Linked DNA regions of Homo sapiens: regions 1 and 2 are each linked to region 3. Evidence: fine-mapped expression QTL. A gene starts in region 3. Each other region holds a variant in brackets. All regions are shown on one strand. Distances are between the middles of the regions.

The links.
Region 1: its variant is fine-mapped to the expression of ARMH4 in testis (GTEx, PIP 0.98).
Region 2: its variant is fine-mapped to the expression of ARMH4 in visceral fat (GTEx, PIP above 0.99).

Annotation. Positions count from the first base shown.
Region 1 is chr14:57,991,781-57,997,011 of GRCh38, reverse strand. No RefSeq gene overlaps it. Among named protein-coding and RNA genes, the nearest start is that of SLC35F4, 130 kb to the right of the region's middle. The variant CTG/G (reference allele first, on the strand shown) is at 2,704.
Region 2 is chr14:58,096,578-58,101,808 of GRCh38, reverse strand. It overlaps ARMH4 (armadillo like helical domain containing 4), which reads left to right. Exons shown (of 8, transcript NM_001001872.4): 5 at 4,828-5,085. It also overlaps the pseudogene LOC100420347. Among named protein-coding and RNA genes, the nearest start is that of ARMH4, 53 kb to the left of the region's middle. The variant C/A (reference allele first, on the strand shown) is at 2,991.
Region 3 is chr14:58,149,191-58,154,421 of GRCh38, reverse strand. ARMH4 (armadillo like helical domain containing 4) reads left to right here and starts at 2,209. Exons shown (of 8, transcript NM_001001872.4): 1 at 2,209-2,347. RefSeq lists silencers at 2,015-2,084, 1,977-2,271, 2,165-2,384, 2,485-2,674.

The DNA of each region.
Region 1 (5,231 bases), 160 kb after region 3:
GTGACTTCTTTTGTTTACTTTTTTTGAGACAGGGTCTTACTCTGTCACTCAGGCTATAGTGCAATGGTGCAATCATGGCTTACTGCAGCCTCAAACTCTTGGGCTTAAGTGATCCTTCCCCCTTAACTTCCTGAGTAGCTAGGACTACAGATGTGTGTCAGCACTCTCAGCTATTTTTTTTTTTTTTATTTTTTGTAGAGACAGGGTCTCACTATGTTGCCCAGGCTGGTCTCGAACGCCTGGGCTCAAGCTATGCTGCCTCAGCCTCCTGAGCTGTTGGAATTACAGGCATGAGCCACTGCACCTCGCCATTTTCTGTTACTTTTAATAGTAGGTACCAGTGAACTAACTTTGCATTTAATGAAACTTAAATATCTGGGAAAATTCTCCTAATACCTTTAGGGGATTACTTTGGTTGATCCCTAGATATGAGTTACTATCTCAGATCTGTTTGACTGTCTTGATTTGTAAAGGCTAATAGGAGAGTTTCTTATTCTTTGACAAGGGAACAAAGCTCAATATCTTGTTTTTCTTGAAAACAAATCCAAGAAACTTTTTTCTCAGGGCTGGTATGTATGAGGACAACATCTGGTCTTAGATGTGCAGCCTGCAGAATCAAGCAATGCAGCTCTGTGTCCTGGTGCTGAGCAGTTTCTGTGGCCTTTTGACAGTTCTTACGGGCAATCGTCAAGCCACTTACCTTCCTTAGCATATAAAAAATAAAGCAAGTTTCCCATAGTTGCCATATCAGCACAAGGCCAGATTCTGGAGGGCCTCAGGGACAATGATATGCAGAATTGAGAAAATTCAGAAAAACTTAAGAATAATTATCATTCCAGTCCCACCCGAAATGTTAACAATAATAAACATTGGTAACATTTTGGTCTGTACTTTTCTAATCTTTTTTTTCCTATGCATTTATGATATGCAATAAATACTTTTATTTTTATACAAAATCAGGATTATAATTTACATAGTATTTTGTTACCTCTCTGTAGCTATGTTTTCCCATGGTTGTTTTAAGAGGAATAGAAGAAAGGAAAACAGCTTGTGAAAATCCTAAGTTGTATTTGAACGAGCAAGCTGTGTTTCCTCATTAAAACATTTATTTCGCATTTGATGGTCCATAACTGCCCATTTACCTCAGGATGCCTCCATAGGATGAAAATAAGAACAGAGTTGAAAGAAGTCTCCATAAACACAACGCACATTGGCAAATGTCATATTCTTGTTCCTTAAGGGATTAGAGAACACTTTCTTCTCTTTGTCTTTGCCCCCAAAGTAAAAGCTATAAGCTTTTATAATTAAATAATAAGACTGAATAACCATAAGCGCAATTAATATGTAGTATTATGAGAAATACTGGGGAAAAGGACACTTACTGTGTGACTTAAATTGATTAAAGGGTTATTCAGTTCAACTCTCTTGAATCTAATTAGTATTTTTGTGTCATTTATTATTATAGGGCACACATTTTTTACATTTGATTTAACTTGACTAAAATTAAATGAGCAAATGTTTATTGCTATGTCCATTGTTTTCCTTTCTCTGTCATTGTTAAAAAGAGGAGCCATGGCTTCTGCTTCTTCTGTGTATTCTCCATTAGACCTTCTTCATCCACCCTCTTCCCCATCCCTTTCAGCTCTGAAGGGTCTATAAATGAAAGTGGGTACCAACTGATTCAATAGGACTTATATCTTACTAAATAACGTTTTATTGTCTTTGTTCTATGTATTTGCAGAGAAATTGTAAGTATCTTTAAAACCAATTAACAAAGCCCTGTGGGTCTTTCAATCAAGACCTTTGTAAACATCTCTACTAGCCCATACTCCCCCAAACTTCTTGCACATGGTAGAAGATGACATTAAATAAAGCACATTATAAGGTGCAATGAGCTTTATTCTAAAAATATTGTCTGGATGTGAAAGTAAGTTCTTGTTCATAAAATGTTATTAGTAAAATGTTATTAGATTAAAATTATGGAGTAAGCATTTGGCAAACTGATTGACTCTTCACTGGAAAGACCAGGCTTTTTAGCACACATTTCTGTTCATGCTTAAGGTCAGAAGTCAATCAAAGGCAACCAGAAAAAAAAAAGGCAAATAAATGAATTAGGGACATAATTATTTTCTGTTATAAATAATCAGGATCTTTTCAAGTTTAATTATGGGGAGTTGTTGAATAGGCTAGTTTTATGCCATGCAAATAAAATGTGAATTTCAAAAATCTTAGTGAAACTCAAATTTATTTTTACTTAGCGATAATAAAATCACAAATACTTCTTGAGCTCTTGCTGTAGGCCAAGTGCTGTGCTCAGTACTTAACATGGATAAACTCGATTGAGTATCACAATTCAAAGAGGTAGGCACTCCAGGTTACCCTTGACTCTGCTGATGGCAGAAACCTCACTTGTAATAAATAATTATCTTTGACAAGAGAAACATAAAACAAGACCTGTAATAAATGATTTGTTCACAGATTTTTCATGTCATAGAAACTATATAGCATTGATTTTTAGCTATGATTTTGATTCAGTTTTTAAAGTATTTAATTTTTATTATATCAGCCCACACTGAACATTGGTTTTTCAGCAGATAATGCATCTTCCAAGTGCTCCAAGGCGAAGAGCCGCAGAGAAGAATACTGCATCTTGAGTCATACCCTGAAATTACTGAATGAATTACCTGTGGCCATGTAAACACT[CTG/G]CTTCAGTAGGTAGAGTGCAACAGACAATCCAATCATTCAGAACTAAGTTTTTAGTTAGCTTCTGTTATTCACTGAAGTAGTTTGCAATTACAGTTGTCTCTAGGTATCCATGGGGGATTGGTTCCAGAACTCCCTGCTGATAACAAAATTCATGGATGCTCAAGCGCCTTACATAACTTGGTGTAGTATTTGCGAATAACCTATGCACATCCTCAAGTATACTTTATATCATCTCTAAACATATAATACTTAATATGTAAATGCTATGTAATTAGTTGTTATTACTGTATTTAGTGAATAATGACAAGAAAAAAAAGTGTGTACCTGTTTAGTACAGACACTACTCTGTACTGATTTTTTTTTCTGAGTATTTTCCATCCAGGGTTGGTTGAATCCACAGATGTGTAACTCACAAATATGAAGGGCTGACGGTACCTAGTAGTTAATTCAGATTTATCGCAGTGATCTAAAGTAATTTTGCAGTTTACAAGCATTTTTTTTTGGTTCTAAAAGAAAAAAACAAAACGAATATTGGTGATGTGATATTTATGTAATGTGATGATATTATAATGGCCACGTTTTAAAACTTGAGAATGTCCTAAGTTCACACACTGTTGGTTTCTAGATCCACAAGGCTTCTGTATACAGTTCACGGTCCTCGGCATTGCTTCTTGTAATTTTTCCATCCCAAAGGAGAGCTACTGTACTGACTGTACTTGTGGAATGCAGCGCTTCATTAAATTAAGTTTATTAAAATGCAATGTGTGGCACAAGACCTGTTCCTTGTTTAAAGATTTAGTAGAAGGTGGTTTCTTTGGATGCACTCTTCATTTATTTCAATGAACGCAAAATGCATTGTATCAAGAGACGTTTCTGCAAAGGGCAGTAAAAAATAAGAAAAACAACCATGAAGAAGAAAACAACTATGAATAAACCAATTCTATGGGGGATTGTTTTTGTGCTTCTCAAAGTGTGTGTGTGTGTGTGTGTGTGTGTGTGTGTGTTGGAAGGTGGGTAGAAGGTGGGGGGGATGGGTGTCTGTGTATGAGAGAGAGAGAAAGAGAGAGAGCGAGTGCACTAAGTGAATATATCCTTATGGTCTAAACTGGGATACAATTGAGAGTGAAAGGGGCACAGCTGGGTGCGCTGGCTCACATGGATCACTTGAGTCCAGGAGTTTGAGTCCAGCCTGGGCAATGTAGGGAGACCCTGTGTCTACCAAAAATTAAAAATTAGCCAGATGTGGTGATGTGCCTCTGTGGACCCAGATACTTGGGAGGTTAAGATGGGATGATCACTTGAGCCTGGGAGGTCAAGGCTGCAGTGAGCCATGATCATGCCACTGCACTCCAGCCTGGGTGATGGAATGAGACCTTATCTCAAAAACAAAAAAGTGGGGACACTGTTAATTACAATGGGATAACAGGCATAAACTGGAATGATCCTGGGAAAATAGGAACCTAAGGGACATCTTAGAGGGAGTGTATCAGACACCTCTTAGAGGAAGTGTAACAGACACTTCAAATCCTATCTTTTATTCCAGTCACCTAAGTAGCATTTAGTTTGGCACAGGCTTCCACCAGTTTGCCAGGGTGTGGGTTATTGTGGGGTTTCACTTGTCACTCACACATGTACAACCTGGAAATGTTAGGGGGGCTAACCTGGTGGGCCTTAACGAATGAGGATGGAAACTGATGGATAAATCCTCCCACCATTTGTTGCTCATGTGGCCGGTTCTCAGATACGTTTCATGAGGCTTCTCAGAATAGTCCTTAGGATTGAGCACTGGTTGTCCATTGCAATGCTACCTTGAAAATTCATCCTTGTATTGGCCTTCTCTCTTTCCTTGTTTCACTGCTACTTGCATGCAAGACTTTGTCTGAGGTCCTGCTTTCAGGGGAACTCAGGCTACAATAATTGGGATTTTGGAGTGAGATCACTCACTGTTCAGAGGTAATAAGGACTCCATTTTTGGAGGTGGGTGGAGTGGTGGTATCTGGCCAGCGCCATCTCAGTTACTAAGACTCTTACTGAGGTGGATTGGGATGAGGTGCAGGCAGAGGCAGAGCATTGGGTGGTGTGATAGCCGTGGTCCTTAAATAGTACAGGAGCAATGGTAATAACAAGGATTGAGCTGGCTGGTGTGTTTAGACTGCTTTGGAGGCTTTGAAAAAAGCAAATGAAGAAAATGACAGGCTCAGGTTTGTTAATTAGCAACATAAGGCATGTCATGAAAGCCAGAGGATCTGTATGGAAGTGTATCAGGAGACTCACATTGGTGGATTGTGCTGTCATTCTCACACTCAAGGTCACCCTCCAAGCAAGCAATCTAGATCAGGCAAGATGTTAATGAGCCTACATCAGGCAAGGGTGAGAAAAGTCTAAAGTGGATAGTGGAGGAGGGAGATGAAGAATATTATGATCTTGGGATCAGCTGGAACAGTAGAACTGGAACTTGTTCCACTAACCCTCTTGAATTAAGTCTTTGCAGAGACTATGGCTGGCCACCACCATGAAAGGGATTC
Region 2 (5,231 bases), 53 kb after region 3:
CTCTCCCCCGTTTTCTCTTCTATCAATGGTGGGTTCTTCATGTCCATGGTGTCTGGGCTTTTCACAATCCTCACTGCTGTTTTCTATCATGCTACCGGGCAGGGCAGGCAAAACAAATTGAGATTTTTTTCTGGTTAAAATCTCCAAACAAAGTTGTGAAAAAAAAAAACCCAAGTAATTTTAGAAATGTCATTTTTACCTAAGAATTGACTTGCTTGAGTTTCTCTTTATGGATTGACTATTACCTCATTGAAGGACAAAAGGTTAAGATTTTTGGCAGTGAACTTCTTTAGATGTCAGACCATTGCTTGGGCTATGCAGCAGATTCATTTCCTTTTCAGTCCCCACAACTTGCTGCTGTTGCTTTCCTGCTCATCACTTCTGTGAAAATCATTGTCCTTTTCCTTTTTCTCTTTTTTGGTCTTTGTTTGAACTGTCTTCTGCTTTCATTTCACCATTCTGATGGAAATCTAAGTGTTGTTTTGTGGAACAAGTATCCCCTTTGATGTCTCTAGGCACTTCCATGCCCAATTTGTGACAGAATTCTCTGTTTTCATTTCTGCTTCTTGGAGACCTGATACCAATTTGTAAACAGTCTCATGTATGGTGCTCTCATGACCGATGTACTGCAGTGAGTGAGTGTGACGCATCACAGTCCTACATGCAGGGCAGGTGTTGTTCTCTTACAAATACTTTACCAGGCAACCCCTACAGAATGTGTGCAGACACTTGGTCACCCTGGTTGCATCAATGAGGTGCCCACTACACAGGCGGCAGGTGATGTGGGCCTTAGTGTCCCACAGCTTAATCCTTCTGGTCAACATCTTTGGCTTTTCCTTTGGATGTCTGTCTGCTTGTTTTTCTTTCTGCCTTAGCATGGAGGCCCCACGTCATCACTCTGACTCACTGATTCTGCCTCACTCTGCACTCTGGTTCACTTCTGGCCCTTGCTGTTTTTCAGTTTTCTAGCACAGAAACAGTTACTTTTGAGGGATGGCCAGGAGTCCCTGCTACATTGTGAAGCTGTGATCTTGGTCTTGGGGGTACAGGCAGGGGCACTCCAGGAGAAGGAAGGGGTGCCACTCCTTTCGGATCCACCCCCAAGAGGAGGAGAAAACACCTGTCAAGAATCTAAAATAAAGACATGGAAGTCCTCAGGTAGTTTTAATGGTTCCTGATAGTTTTCCTAATAACCTAAATTTCCATCATGTTTCCTCTATCCAGCCTCTTTTTCAACTTCTCTTTAATTAGAGTCCCTGGTCCATCTTTATAATTACTCCTTCACACACAATCAGTACCCTTTCTTACCCTCTCTCTATCCCTCACACTCTCAATTGAGCTCTTCTGGTAAAACTTGCTGCTGGTTAAATCTCTGTGCCTACTCACCTCTCCACCCATGCCTGCGCCCAAGCAGCTGAATGTGGCTTGAGAAAAACTCACAACCATCTTAACAGGTCTCACTTTAGATATATGATGTCACATCTGAAGTGGGCCTAGAGGGCTGCCTGGCAGTCCTGCCCCATTTCTCTGAGAATGTACTCGCCTACTCTCCAAGACGACTATTTCACGCTTTTTCCTCTCACCTCAAACCACCAACATTTCTCTTTTCCTTTCCAGTTTTTTTATTTGACCGAGAATAAAAGAAATATAAAGATCCCCTACCCACCAAATCTGCCCACCTTCCTGCACCATGCCTGTTTCTCTGCCTTCCCTTTTTCCTACCGTTTCAGGGGAGGATGTATCCAAACCAGCCTGTGCACTGGACCTTGTCTTCTTTTAGTCATTATGAAGAAGCCAACCTGTCCAGTATGCACCAGGCTTAGTTTTAAGTACCTTATAAATTAACTAATGAAATCCTTACAACAGCCTTGTGAGGTAGGAATAATATCAGTTTTACAGACGAGGAGGTTGAGGCACAGCAAAATTCAGCAACGTGTGCAAAAATCACACAGCCGTAATAAATTTGTGTGGCTTCAGAGTCTATGCATGCAGCCACTGTATAATACCATGTCTCCCAGGATATTCTCCCGCAGCTGCTTCTGTCTTTCCTGCCTCATTGATTGCCCCTTTCGATGAGATCTGACCCATTAACTTACAAGCAGGTTCTATTTTCTATATTCTATTTTAAGACCCTACCCTTGACCCTGTGTCTCTCTCCACCTGCCCCCTATTTTCTCTGTTCTCCTTTTAGCCAAATTTCTGGTAAGAATTTTTTGTTTGTTTGTTGTGTCTTCTTTTCTAATCTTTTTTTGAACCACTCCAACCTGGCCTTTGTCTATATCATTCCTCCAAAACAACTTTTGTCAAGGTCCCCCGTGCCCTCCCAATGTCCAAGCCAGAGGGACACCCTCAGTCTCTTACTCGGGCCCTTGGAGACGCTTTCTTCATTTGCCTTCCCTGACACCACACACTTCTTGGATTTTCTCCCACCCTGGTGGTTACTCCTGTTTCCTGTGTGGATCTTCCTCTGCTGGTCACCCTCTAAGTGGTGGCTTTGCCCGGGAATGTGGTCTGGACCATTTCCCTTTCTGTCTATATTCACCTTCTTGATAATCTCAGCCAGTCTCAAGGCTTTGAATATTATTAATAAATTGACAATTCCCAAAATTTATCTCTAGCTTTGAAACTTCCCTAGACTTCCAACATTCCCTTGGATGCCATAGGCCATCACACAGTTACTGTATCTCAAATGCAAATTCTTGTTTTGACTCCTTATCTTTTAGATCCCGTTTTCAGTCATGTGGGATCTTCCTCCTGCATCTCACATTGTACTTATCAGCAGGGTTCTACCTTGAAATTACATCCCCGATATGACTACCTCTCTCCTCTTTCCAGATTGTACCCTAGTCCAAAGCACCATAATCTATTCCTGGTTTTTAAGTGGACTCCTTGTCAGCCTTCTTTTTTCATCTCTTGCTTTGATATAGCCTGTTCTCCACCCTGCTGCTAGAGTCATTCTTTAAAAATATAAGTCAGTACTACCTGTTCCC[C/A]AAAAACCTATTGAAATAAATAAAAGACTTAAAAAAAAAAAAAGTCAGATCTGGCCCCTGCCTACTTCTTCCTACCTCATTTCCTGTATTTGCCCTGTGCCTCCCAGCCCAGGCTTCTTTGCCATTGTTTGAACACAGCGAGGCCACACCTGCCTCAAGGATTAGGTCCTTGCCATTTCCTCCACTGGGAATGCTCTTCCTGTAGATGTTGACTTAAATTAAACAAAAGAATGCATTATTTTGGTGTGGCCTCTGTTCAAACTTTACCTTGTCAGAAAAGCTTTCTTTAATCACCCTTTCTAAAATAGCAGTGCCTGGCGTTTTCTATCTTCTTGCCAGTTTTAATGAGAGTGTAGAGTCACCTGCCTATTGGTGTATCTGTTTGTTTGCTGTGAGTCTCCCTGGGTGGCACATGGGCTCCACGAAGGCAGAGACGTTATTGCTTTTATCCCTAGTGTCTGCAACGGCACCCGTTAGGGGGTTGATACATATTTGTTGAATTTTTAGAATAGTGACAGACATTAATCCTACAAAGTTAAAGGACATATAAGAATAAAAAAAGATTAAAGGTGATTTTTTTTAAAAGTTAAAAAGCCTCTGAATGATAGAGGAAAGGTAGTATGGGTGGAGAAAGTTGTGTAGAAGCAGAAAAGGAGAGTCTCACAATTCTTGGGTGGCTCCAGTTCTTCTTCTTCCCTTCTTTTCTCCACCATAGGAGGAGAATTACCTGTTGCAGTAACTGCTGTGCCGAGAGTCAAGGGGAGAGAGCAAAGGGAAGGCCTTCTGTGAACTTTGTGGGCACTTACCAGGGGCTTCAGAGGTGCATCCATGGTGAGGATGGGGCCTTGAAGTATTACTAGGAAATTAACATTGGTGAAACAAAATGAAATTGGGAATCATATGTTCCTTAAACCCACTCCACTTGGAGCATTGAAAATGACAGCTTGTGGTGAAGTGCCATGGCTCACGCCTATAATACTAGCATTGTGGGAGGCCGAGGGAGGAGGATGGCTTGAGTCCAGGAGTCTGAGACTGTGGTGAACCATGATCACGCCACTGCACTCCAGCCTGGGTGACAGAGCAAGACTCCGTCTCAAAAATAAATAAATAAATAAATAAAAAATAAAAAAAAAAAAATCAAGAAAACGACGAATTGTGAATGTTAACTCTTACAATGAAGATAATGGTAATTTTTAATGTGCTGCCTTTCTGACCACTCCTGGTGAATATCCCACTTCCCAATTCCTTTAGAGTTGGATTGAGAATGTTGATGCAATTATTTCCAGTTTCTTGGATTACTCTTCCTTAGAGAGAACAAGATCCAAGAGTGAATTTATGTGCTCCTCACTTACCATTTTTGTGAGTTCTACTCACTGATGTGGATGAATAGAAAAAGCTGTGCCAAAATAATGAATTGTCTCCTTTAACATTATGAGCTATAAAGGGATGGGAACAGCTTCTTTTAAGTTCTGTTAGTATTTCACAGTGTGCTAACTGATAAACTTTTAATGATCTCCAGAAAACAGCAAGGGGATGTTTACTACCCTTGTAAATATAAATAACTTTAATAACAAATCATATTACTTGAACTTTGACTCCCAGTAAACATAATACCTGATACTTATCTGACATAACTATGGTTTTGAAAGTTTAAACTCTAGGACATATGGTGGGTGTATAATCCTGCAAAGTTCACATTGTCTGACTTTGGCTATAAAGATGTGTTTCAAAAGGCCAAACAATTATTTTGTAGTGTTTGGATCATTTCCAAGGATTCATTTGTTTCAGCATAAACTCATTATATGTTTATGCTTCCCTTTGATTTCTTTTTGCCTAGAGGGACAAGAAGATGAGGATGAAGAGGATGAAGAAGATGAAGATGAAGAAGAGGAAGATGAGGAAGAAGATGAGGAAGATAAAGATGCAGACTCGCTGGATGAGGGCTTGGATGGTGACACTGAGCTGCCAGGTTTTACCCTCCCTGGTATCACATCCCAGGAACCAGGCTTAGAGGAGGGAAACATGGACCTGTTGGAGGGAGCTACCTACCAGGTGCCAGATGCCCTCGAGTGGGAACAGCAGAATCAAGGCCTGGGTAAGAGTCATGTGTATTTCCCTTTTCCTCCCTTCTCCCCTCCTTTTATATTTCTCAGATGACAGCCTTCTTTCATTGCCATCTATTGTAAAGAAAAATGGATTTTCTTTGTTTATGGGTGGTTTCTACATTTATGGGTGGTTAAG
Region 3 (5,231 bases):
TAGAATAAGGAAATAAAGAAATGAAATATTTTTGAACAGCTGTACAATATGTTTGTGTTTTAAGCTGTGTTATTACAAAAGAGTCAAAAGTTACCCAGCCGTGGTGGCATGTGCCCGTAGTCCCAACTACTGGGGAGGCTGAGGCAGGAGGATTGCTTGAGGTTAGGAGGTCCAGGCTGCAGTGAACTGTGATTGTACCACTGGACTCCAGCCTGGGTGACAGAGTGAGACCCTGTCTCAAAGAAAAAAAGAGTCAAAAGTTAAAAAAAATTTATAAAGTAAAAAATTCAGGTAAGCTATGGTTAATTTATTATTGAAGAAAAAATGTTTATGTCTACAGTACAGCCTAAGTGTACATTGTTTACACTACAGTAGTAGTGTAGCATACAGTTATAGCCTACATAACTACAGTAGTGTAGTTATGTACAATAGTATACAGTTATGTCAGTAGTGTAAGGTTACGTACATTACAGTAGTGTACAGTTATGTCCTAGGTCTTCATATTCTCACTCATCATTCGTTGACTCACCCAGAGCAACTTCCAGTCCTATAAGCTCCATTTATGGTAAGTGCTCTATACAGATGCACCATTTTTTATCTTTTATACTGTATTTTTACTGTATTGTTTCAATGTTTAGATATAGAAATACCATTGTGTTACAATTGCCTACAGTACTGAGTACAGTAACATGCTGTACAGGCTTGTAGCCTAGGAGCAATAGGCTATACCATATAGCCTTGGTACGTAGTAGGCTATGCCATCTAGGTTTGTGTAAGTATACTATTATGCTCGCATAACAACAAAATTGCCTAAGGATACATTTCTTAGAATGTATTCCCCTAATTAATCAATGCATGATTATACATAGATAATAATTTCTAAAGGGAGGGGGAATGGGTAACAGTGCATACCTGCTGGGCACCGTGGCACATGTCTATAATTCAAACACTTCGGTAGACCGAGGCAGGAGGATCGCTTGAGTCCAGGAGTTTGAAACTAGCCAGGGCAAGATAGGAAGACCCCATCTTTACCAATAATAATAATAATAATAATAATAATAATAATAATAATAATAATAAAAAATTAGCCAGTCGTGGTGCCGCATGCCTGTGGTCCCAGCTACTTAGGAGGCTGAGGTGGGTGATGGCTTGAGGTCCCAGGAGGAGGTCGAGGCTGCAGTGAGCCATGATGGCGCCACTGCACTCCAGCCTGGGGGAAAGAGTGAGATCCTGTCTCAAAAACAAACAAACAAACAAACAGAAACCAGTACATACCTGTGCATTGTGTTAGGTGTGGGGGTCAAAGGTGAGCCAGCTTTTGCTCTGACTTCAAGGTGTTTATAATTAACTACAAAAGGGGACTAAGGTATTATGAAGAAGGGAGCTAATAAGCACAATAAGGGACAAATGTGAAGAGTGCTCTGCAAATGTAAAATGCTGCGTTGTGGAGGTTGTTCCAAAACGGGCCTTTAGATTCCGACACCTCTTTCCACACCATTAGAAGTAACAGAAAAAGAAAACAGTCCTTGAGAGGCTCAAGAATGGAGGACACAAATTCCCGGTGGCCACGCGAGCCGGATGACCTTGGAGAAGTTACACAGCCCTTAGCCTTAACCTCCTACCCTGGTAAATGAGAACTACAATATCTACCCTTCTATCGTGCAGATTAAGCAGGTAAAGTAATGGGCAAAGCATCTACTCTTGTGCCTGGCAGGAGTAAGGGCTCAATAAACCTTACTTGTGACTAGCACTAGTTTGCAACTTCTCCGACGGACTGAGAAGGGACATTCTGTGTAGAGTTACTTTAAGGGTCCTACTTAAGGGCACCGCCAAGCCGTCCATAGTTTCCACAAGGAACACTGCAGTCTCAGATTTGCGCTCCTTGCCTGAACCAAAGACAGCAAAATTGAGGTTTTTCTCGTGTAAACGGTGCCCTGGTCTCTTCCGCGTAGATAGGGAGGCGAGCTGCCGCAGAAGCTCCCGCTTAAAGAGGGGAAGCGGAGCACGGGATCTCCGAGGGGTCCCAGGTGCCGGGACTCCAGCAGAAGCCGCCCCCGCGGGAGAGCGGAGGCGGGGAAGTGGGCGCAGGGGGGCGTGGGCGACGGCGTCGGCTGTCAGTGCCAGCAGAGCCAGGGCGGGCACACCTACTCACCGCCCAATCCCCGGCCGTAGCCGCGGCCTTATGAATAAGCAACAAAGCGAAGCGCCCTCCCCCTAGCGTCCCAGACAGCGGAGGGAGTCGCCGCCGCTACCGCCGCCGCCGCCGCAGGGCCCGCCGCTGGGATGCCGAGCGCCCGCGCCGCCGCTGCCTCTGTCCTCCGCGCGCTGCTCAGCTGAAGGCGCACAGGTGAGGACGGGCCCGGCTCCGGCCACTTGGGCGGCCGCGGCTGCAGACGTGGCGCCGGGGCAGGGACGGAACCGGAGCCTCAGTGGCGTGGGGTCGCTCCGCGAGCGTAACAGTCCCGGGAGCGTTGCAGCCCTGGGTGCGCCAGGCGTGCGCCCCGATCCTCCTCCGGAGCGCGGTGCCCAGGTGTGGGGTGCGCGGGGGCAGCTCTGGGCGCGCTGGGCGCGGCGCGCAGGCCTCGGAGGACTCACCGCACTCCTAGCTCCAGCCCAGCCTCCCAGCTCCGCACCAGCGAGCCGGCCTTTGTGCTGGCGGAGCTTGCAGGGCTGGCTGCTTTTGTGTGGGCTTTTCTTTCTCTTTCTCCCTCCGCTCGCAATCCCACAGCAGTGAGAGAGAAGTTCCCGAAAACAACGGTTTACTCCTTTCAAACCGTCGATCGCAGTGTCCCCAATGCCACTCAGAGCCTAACAATCGAGGAGCGAATCGTTGCTGCGGTCACCACCGAAATATGTCCTGCCACTTTGCAGAAAACAAACAGTTGAGTGTTTAGCGCAGAGATGTCGAGCCTCCTTGCTCAGCCCCTGACTCGTCCCCCAGGACGCGGCTGGAGGACGCTCCTTGGAAAGGTCACTTAATTAGAAAGAGGGCCTGCGGGTTAGACCTGGGGGAGGCGAGGCTCTGCTTGAGACTCCGGAATAGTTGGGAGGTGCTGCCGGAGGTGCCCAAATGTCTCATGTGCCTCGTGGTCACTGACAGAATCTGACTTGTGTAGATTCCAAACATGTAGAACCTTGGCTGGCGAGGAGGCAAGCAGGAGTGAACAAAACAGGACCCTTAAGAGTTTGGGTTCTCAAAGATGAGATGATCCCGAGGATCCGCCTAGCACTTGGCATCCAATTTCAGTGCAGAACTGATGTGGAAGAGAGGAGAGATGGCTGCTTTAAAGTGTCTGCCTTCTTTCTTTGGAAGTTTTAGTTTGAAACTTGAGGGGGAGTGGGGAGTGGTTCACAAAACCATCCCTAGGGTTCTGAAGGATCTCTTCTCCAAAGGGCAAAAATTCTTGAGTGGTCAGAATTCACATGCCTTCTCTTTATTTTGGTGTATTTCCTTGATCACAAGTGATGCTGTTGGGCTCCAGGGAGTCTCCTTTTAGCCAAGCATCTACAGTCATTGACTGACTTCGGCACGTATGCCAGTAGAACCCCACAGTAGCATCTATTGAAACACACAACCGGCTAAGGTTTCACAGTATCAGAACATTGCTTCTTTTACACACAGAGGTTTAAAGGTACTCTGACTTGCTCTTATGAATAAAGTGGTTTTTTTTTTGTATTTGTCACAATAATGAACCGAGCACTTGTGCAGCAGACAGATTTGATATTAGTTGAGTTTATTCATAGAAACTCCCAAGGCTCACCAAGTCTAAGGTAGCTACAGCAACGGAGCCAATTAGAGAGATGTGAATTTGTCTTTGTTTTCATGGGAGGCTTCTTACTACATATTCCGGAGTTTCCTGCCAGACCTTTACAATATTATAATTTGGTATTACGGAAATGGTTCGATGCTAAATATAAGTGTAGAATCAAAATGAGGAAAACGGGTTTATCTGCTGTGGAAAATGTCCACTCCCCACCTAAAGGTGTCCTTTGCCCTTTATTCTGTAGATGTTTGTCTGAAAAGTGGTGTATGGAATTGTATTTTTGTTAATTGAACTTAAAAAACTTCTCACATAGGGAAGCTGTCTATGCAGAGGGAAACTGCTTTTAATTTTTGTAAAATGAAAACTCATTCCCTAAGCAAGATGTGAGGTCAATCTTATTTTTCCATATTGTGTTTACTTGGTGATTATAAGAGAAGTATCTGAAGCTAGTTTCAGCTTCCCTTTAAATGTCAGCTACTTAGAGATCTAGCCAAGCAAATGGCTACATTTGTGTACCACAAAAACCAGAAATGATATGTCCAATTGGGTCACTGAAATAAACTGTCTGATGGATGGAGAAGAGTTTGTTGATCAAGATTCATCAGGATAGGATTCTGCAGACAGCAGAACCCTCTCAGGTCACATTGTCTACATGATAAAGCTGAAAGGAGAAGCTCCATGAAAGTACCTTGGGGAAAAAAATGCTACTCCATTTGTGGCTGATGTTACAGATGCTCCAAATTGCTCACATTTCTGTATTTGACAGGAATGCATGTCAGTAGCATGCTAGTATGTCTTCTATTGCATGATAATTTACTTTTGTTTCAAACTGCTTTTATGTCTATTATCACTTTTGTGTGTGTTCTCCACCCTTTGAAAAAATATAACCAGCATTATTATTTCTACTTTGCAACAAGAAAACTTGAGTTTCAGTGATTTGCCTAAGGTAGAACTGGAACTCGAAGAAGCCTGTTTTTAAATCTTCAAGTCCATCTCCTTTTACCAGGGATGAGATGATATGCTAGGGGTGATAAGCACGGATATCTTCATTTGTCTACATCACTAATTTGTAGAGACTGAAGCTCCTGGGCTCAGTATGTAGAACTTAGGTGTGGTCTTCAGGGATGGTAAAGTACTTTTTACTGGTATTTAGTTTCCAGTAATTTAGCTATTTTGACCCCAGCCTACTTACCCTCTTCCCTGCCAGCTCTGGGGCTGCTTTCCTCCTGGGGGACCATGCTTTTCTTTGTGGTTACTTACTCCTTCTCCCTCCTTCCATTGTGATGGAACATGCTGCTGAAAGGATTGTTTGTCATTCAGCTATTTAATTTATGGTGAAGTATAGCTGCAGCCTAGATCCTAAAGCCAATATAACAGACCAGTGATGATTGTCAGTAGCACAGTGAATCAGAAACGTGGTACCTTAATGCCATTTGCCACAGCTGGGTTAATAGAGTGAGAGTCTTT